2 separate regions of the Homo sapiens genome follow, and region 1 is linked to region 2. The links come from fine-mapping of genetic effects on gene expression. A gene starts in region 2. The other region holds a variant in brackets. All regions are shown on one strand. Distances are from middle to middle. Region 1 overlaps LRP11 (LDL receptor related protein 11). Region 2 holds the start of PCMT1 (protein-L-isoaspartate (D-aspartate) O-methyltransferase).

Evidence for each region. PIP is the estimated chance that this variant, and not a neighbour inherited with it, causes the effect.
Region 1: its variant is fine-mapped to the expression of PCMT1 in blood mononuclear cells (TOPMed, PIP above 0.99).

What each region holds. Positions count from the first base shown.
Region 1 is chr6:149,841,306-149,844,212 of GRCh38, reverse strand. It overlaps LRP11 (LDL receptor related protein 11), which reads left to right. Exons shown (of 7, transcript NM_032832.6): 3 at 1,089-1,230. It overlaps RAET1E-LRP11 (RAET1E-LRP11 readthrough), which reads left to right. Exons shown (of 15, transcript NR_182438.1): 11 at 1,089-1,230. Among named protein-coding and RNA genes, the nearest start is that of RAET1E-AS1, 21 kb to the left of the region's middle. The variant C/T (reference allele first, on the strand shown) is at 1,159.
Region 2 is chr6:149,747,985-149,750,891 of GRCh38, reverse strand. It overlaps PCMT1 (protein-L-isoaspartate (D-aspartate) O-methyltransferase), which reads right to left and starts at 1,151. Exons shown (of 8, transcript NM_001360452.2): 1 at 936-1,151. The coding sequence starts at 990. It also overlaps a transcript of NUP43 not described here. RefSeq lists enhancers at 1-220, 1,186-2,151 and silencers at 325-619, 545-781, 1,012-1,401.

The sequences.
Region 1 (2,907 bases), 93 kb before region 2:
TGGGTGATCTTGGCACACTACAACCTCTGTCTCCCAGTTTTAAGCGATTCTCCTGCCTCAGCCTCCCGAGTACCTGGGACTACAGGCGCACGCCACCATGCCCAGCTGATTTTTGTATTTTTAGTAGAGATGGGGTCTCACCATGTTGGCCAAGATGGTCTCCATCTCCTGACCTCATCATCCGCCCGCCTTGGCCTCCCAAAGTGCTGGGATTACAGGCATGAGCCACCGTGCCCAACCAAGCATGGATTTTTTAAAAATAGTATTGTTGGTCTTGACACCTAGGAGACTTTTGCTAGGTCAGTTAGTGAGTTTTGCCAGCACTGTTTCAGGGGGATGGTGGGGAAAGCAGCTACATTGGGTGGGCGAAGACTAAATGGGAAGTGAGCAAACAGAAACAGCAAGCACGGCACAGCCAGGCCTTTCAGGGAGCCAAGTGGAGATGGGAAGGAAGCGGGGCTGTGGCTGGTGAGCCCTTAGAGCTCAGGGAATTTTTTTTATTTGTTGTTTTGTTTGTTTCTTAGGATGAGAGAAACTTGAGCATAGTAATAGCAGAGCCATTTGAAAGAGAAATGAGTCGATGTGTCAGTGTTCTAAAGGTCCTAGAAAGAAAGGGGGCAAGGACTAGAAGGAGGGGTTGGCCTGGAACACAGGAGGGACAGCTTCTCCCTGCTGGCTGTCAGAAGGAAGTGACAGTGGGTACAGGTAGGGTACCAGGAGGAGGTGGGTGGTGGAGCCCTAGTCATGGTCCTGATTTTCTCCCTGAAGCTGATGAGTCCCCCTGCTGAGACGGCAGGGCCTGGATCCTGAGCGTGAGGCTGGGGATGAGGTGCAGGTTTGGAGCAGCAACTGCTGCAGACAAGTGAAGGGATTGTCAGTCAAGGCCTTGGCCACCTAAATAAACTAGAACTTATGAGTTCAAGGTGGGCCAGCTGCCAACAGTGTGTGATGTAGTTCAGCAGCCTCGGGCCGGAGTGCAGAGGCAGGTCCTGGGGCTGCTCTGAGGACATGGACTTTCGGTTGAGGATGGTGTTGGGCTCGGAGCTCAAGTCTGCTGCTCGACGTGATGTGTCCCATCTGTGTGGCAGGTGCCTCAATCAGGAACCCTGAAGCTGTCCCACCTACAGGAGGGAACCTACACCTTCCAGCTGACCGTGA[C/T]GGACACTGCCGGGCAGAGAAGCTCTGACAACGTGTCAGTGACAGTGCTTCGCGCAGCCTACTCCACAGGAGGTGAGAAGAAAGTCCTTCCCTCGCTTCCCACTGCTTGTGGAAGGCAATGTCGGGTTGGCGCTTTGTCCTCTGGCTCTGCGCTCCATGGGCTCTTCCATTTTATTTTTGGTTATTGCTGAATGAGAGAGTCTTTGCTAAAAACACAATAACAAAAGCAGGCTCTCTTCTGTTTTGGGCTTAGCCGATGCTACTGGGTTGGGGTGGAGGAAGCACTCCAGGGGATGAGAAGAGATGCTCCCGCTTCTCTTGACTCGACTTCATCAAAGACAATTGCTTGGCTATTCTGGGAGAGGACTTTGTTTACAGATGGATGGTCCATTTGCTGCATCTGTTCCAAGAGGGAAGCTAAGGAGTTTAGTGAAACCAGTTGAACTCGTGGAAGCAGAGAGTGGAATGGCGGTTACTGGAGGCTGTGCGGGGGACGGACTGGGAAAGGAGAGACGCTGGTCAAAGGGTACAAAGTGTCACTGAGACCGGAGGAACAGGTTCTGGTGATCTGTTGCACAGCATGGTGACTATAGTTAATGATAATGTATTGTCTGTTTCAAAATTGCTAAAACAGTAGGTTTTAAATGTTGTCATCACAAAAAGATTACAAGTAGGGGAGATGATAGATATGTCAGTTAGCTTGATGTAATCATTCCACAATGCAAACATATATCAAAACATCACATTGTGCCTCATAAATATATACTCTCCTCTTTTGTCAATTAAAAATACATATTAAAAAAACAAGGAAAAGGCATACCACAGGATTGAAGAAAGACTTGGCTCTTGGGTGTAATCAATTGCTGATATAATAAGTCACTTCAAAAATTTTAGAAAGAGAAAAAGAGTGCAGCTAAGGAGTACGGTTAAAATTAATTGAAATACGCAAAGGACCCATCAATTTGAAAGTGCTACCTACACATTTTCATAGACACTTTACGCAGATGCAGTTATATTAATAATATAACTTTAAATACATATGATGGTTCTCACATTCTGTTGTACAATGTAACAATGTAAAACTTATTTCATTCATCTATGTTTCTTACTTTTCTAAACATCTACATTTTTTTTTTGAGAGGGAGTTTTGCTCTTGTTGCCTAGGCTGGAGTGGGAGTGCAGTGGTGCAGTCTCGGCTCACTGCAGCCTCTGCCTCCTGGGTTCAAGTGATTCTCCTGCCTCAGCCTCCCAAGTAGCTGGGACTACAGGTGTGCACCACCACGCCCTGCTAATTTTGTATTTTTAGTAGAGACAGGGTTTCACCATGTTGGCCAACCTGGTCTCGAATTCCTGACCTCAGGTGATCCACCCGCCTCAGCCTCCCGAAGCACTTAGACTACAGGCGTGAACCACCGCGCCCAGCCCAACGTCTACATGTCTAAGAAAGATTAGGTCATCAAATTTTTTAAAATATCCATTGCATGGAACTTAGCGACACTAAAGATATTGTAGTATTGTAGAGGGAACCCCTCACCACACACACAATTCACTTCTGGAGAGGTGCTAAGGTCTTGTACATTTAAATATCCTGTTACTCGGTCATCGTGTATTTTCTTAGTGTATGCAGTGTGCAGGGTCCTTGCCAGGCACTGGGGATAGAGTGGTGCACTGGTGGTCCCTGACTCTGGTAAACTTGCAGTAAGTCTGTGACATTTTTGAATTCTCAGTATTCAATACTCAGGATCCAGA
Region 2 (2,907 bases):
AATGCTATAAATTCTGACCAGTGAGTTTATTATAGACTGCGGCCCTTGTAGTCTCCCAACAAAACGGGGACGCTATATTTCGATTTAAAAAAAGAAAGTGACACAGCACTCATCCTATCCTAAAATTATCATCAGAAGAAGGAATACAGTAACTAAGGAGAGTGATATAAAGAAACTCCACATAAGGTTTTTAAAGCCTATGGTAGCCCTGAAAAAAGTTAGAACATCAGACACACAACCCTCTGCTGATCCAGGACCTGCAAAGGCTCCTGAAATACAAGTCTCTCAGGAACAGCATCCCCTGTTCTTTCTCCGCCCCGCACGGAGCTTTCCACTGGACAGCCGCCCGAGAAATTTCTCCCAGCATCTGCAATGGCAATACTCTCATCTTCCTCCCCTCGCCTGTATCAGACGGTGGCATCTCCCTCCAGGGGAAAAAACGGAGGGCGGGGGAGGCTGCATAAGAGGGAAAGCTTGCAGCGAGGTTGATTATGGAGGAGGAAGGTGAGAAAAATGCAGGGGACGAGGGTGGGGTCTCCTGAGCGCCAGCCCACTCTCCATAAGGCCTAGCCCACACGCTCCCACCCCGAAGGCACGCCCCTCACAAGCCGGACCCGGACGCGGACCTGAGTGACAGCAGCATCACCTGTACTGCACTCCCTCCCCCAGGGCCTGCAGGGAGACGACTGCCCCTGCCCCCACCAGCAGCGGCCCCTGGCTCTTTCTCTCCCCTTCCAGTCCACGTCGTCGACGAGTGACAGGTCCCGAGGGAGGCGACTGCAAGCGCACGCCGTTCGGGACTACCGGGGCAACTCTGCGCCGAAGCCCTCCAACAGGCGCGCGGGGACAGACAGAACGTTCCGGACGGCCCAGGGGGACCCGGTCCAGGCCCAGCCTGCCCCAGCTGCCCTACAACGGGCGGAGGTGGCACTTACTGCGGAGATTGTGGATTAGCTCCGAGTGGCTGGCGCCGCCGGATTTCCAGGCCATCGCTAAGCACACTCGGAGCAGGTACAGAACCACCTTCAGCGCGACGACGGTGCCCAGCAGTTTTCCCAAGAGTGAGACCACCTCCCACACCGTCACCGCCCCGCTCGCGTCCCCGCTGTAGCTGCCGCTGTTACTGCCGTCGCCGCCGCTGCCGCCACTGCGCGCTCCCGGCATCCCCCGCGGCACGCATGCGCTCTGTGACGCCGCGCGGCTTAGGGTGCGGCCGGGTGGGGCCGAGGGCGGGGGAGGCGTGTGGCCCAGCCGCCCGCCCCTGTGGCTGCTACCGCTGCCAGGGGACTGCAGGGAGGCCGGGCTGAGTCAGCGCCACTTCCGCTGCTGCGTGTCCCTTTCTGAGGCCTCGGACCGCACCGCTTTCGCCCTGCGGCCCGGCTCGGTAGCCTGATCAGTCGCGTTCCCGGCTGTGTCTCCGGTCACCGAGCGGGACGGCGGGATGGCGGGGTCGATCTGTGCAGACGCTGCTAGTGGTTCCGCAGTCGTCGCTGGGTCAGCTGTTTCGAGCGGCGGATCTGCTCCTATAGATGTCCAGATTGTTAGACGGTGGGCTTCATCCGTCCTACCTCGCCCAACCCAGTTGACTAATATTTGGGTCGGTGGAGCCCGAATAATACAATAAGAATAAAACCCAACGACAAAGGCCCTCTCTAACCCGAGTACACCGGCCTCTGGCTTTGTGACAAGCACGTCACTGTTAGGCTAAGCAGAGACTTTGGAACCCCGGTTCTAAAGCTCTCAGAGTGGAAGAGTACCAGGACATGGGGGTGGGGGTTGGGGCAAAGCTTTGCTCCCTTAGAATAATACCAACGTACAGAGTTGCGATTGGTTAAAAAATACCACTGTGTCCTTTGGTGAACGTGTTATTCTCCCGACGTAAGTGTGCATTTCCACCTAATTAAGCCTCACAAATTCCACCGTGGCTTTATTGCTCTCAGCTCTGCAAGACCATGAGTGAGAAGCTCACTGAGAACATTGCTTGTCGCGTCCAAATCGCTGACTCCTAATTAGACCTGAGACTGACAGAATCCAGCCATCATCTAGTCCAGTAACTTTTTTTTTTTTTTTTTTTTTTTTTTTTGAGACGGAGTCTCGCTCTGTCGCCCAGACTGGAGTGCAGTGGCGCGATCTCGGCTCACTGCAAGCTCCGCCTCCCAGGTTCAGGCCATTCTCCTGCCTCAGCCTCCCGAGTAGCTGGGACTACAGGCACCCGCCACCACGCCCGGCTAATTTTTTGTATTTTTAGTAGAGACAGGGTTTCACCGTGTTAGCCAGGATGGTCTCGATCTCCTGACCTTATGATCCGCCCGCCTCGGCCTCCCAAAGTGCTGGGATTACAGGCATGAGCCACAGCGCCCGGCCTCCAGTAATCTTTTAGAAGGAAACAAAGCTAAGACATCTGTGCCACTATATCAGCACAATTTTCAAATTCTAGTTCTTATCCGATTTTGTAAAATGTGACACTGGCCTGCTTCCAATCCAAAATCAACATTACCTATTTTCTGGGATTATGTGACCATAAATGAAACTACAGGCAAAACTGGTTTCTTTTTGTTTTTTTGCTTTTGATTGAGACGGAGTCTCACTCTGTAGCCCAGGCTGGAATGCAGTGGCATGATCTTGGCTCATTGCAACCTCCACCTCCCAGGTCCCGGTTCAAGCAATTCTGCCGCAGCCTCCCGAGTAGCTGGAATTACAGGCACGCACCACCATGCCCAGCTAATATTTTTGTATTTTTAGTAGAGACAGGGTTTCACCATGTTGACCAGGCTGGTCTTGAACTCCTGACCTCGTGATCTGCCTGCCTTGGCCTCCCAAAGTGCTGGGATTACAGGCGTGAGCCACCGTGCCTGGCCAAAACAGTGTTCTTTACTTCAATATTAAACATGAATAAAATTGTTGATT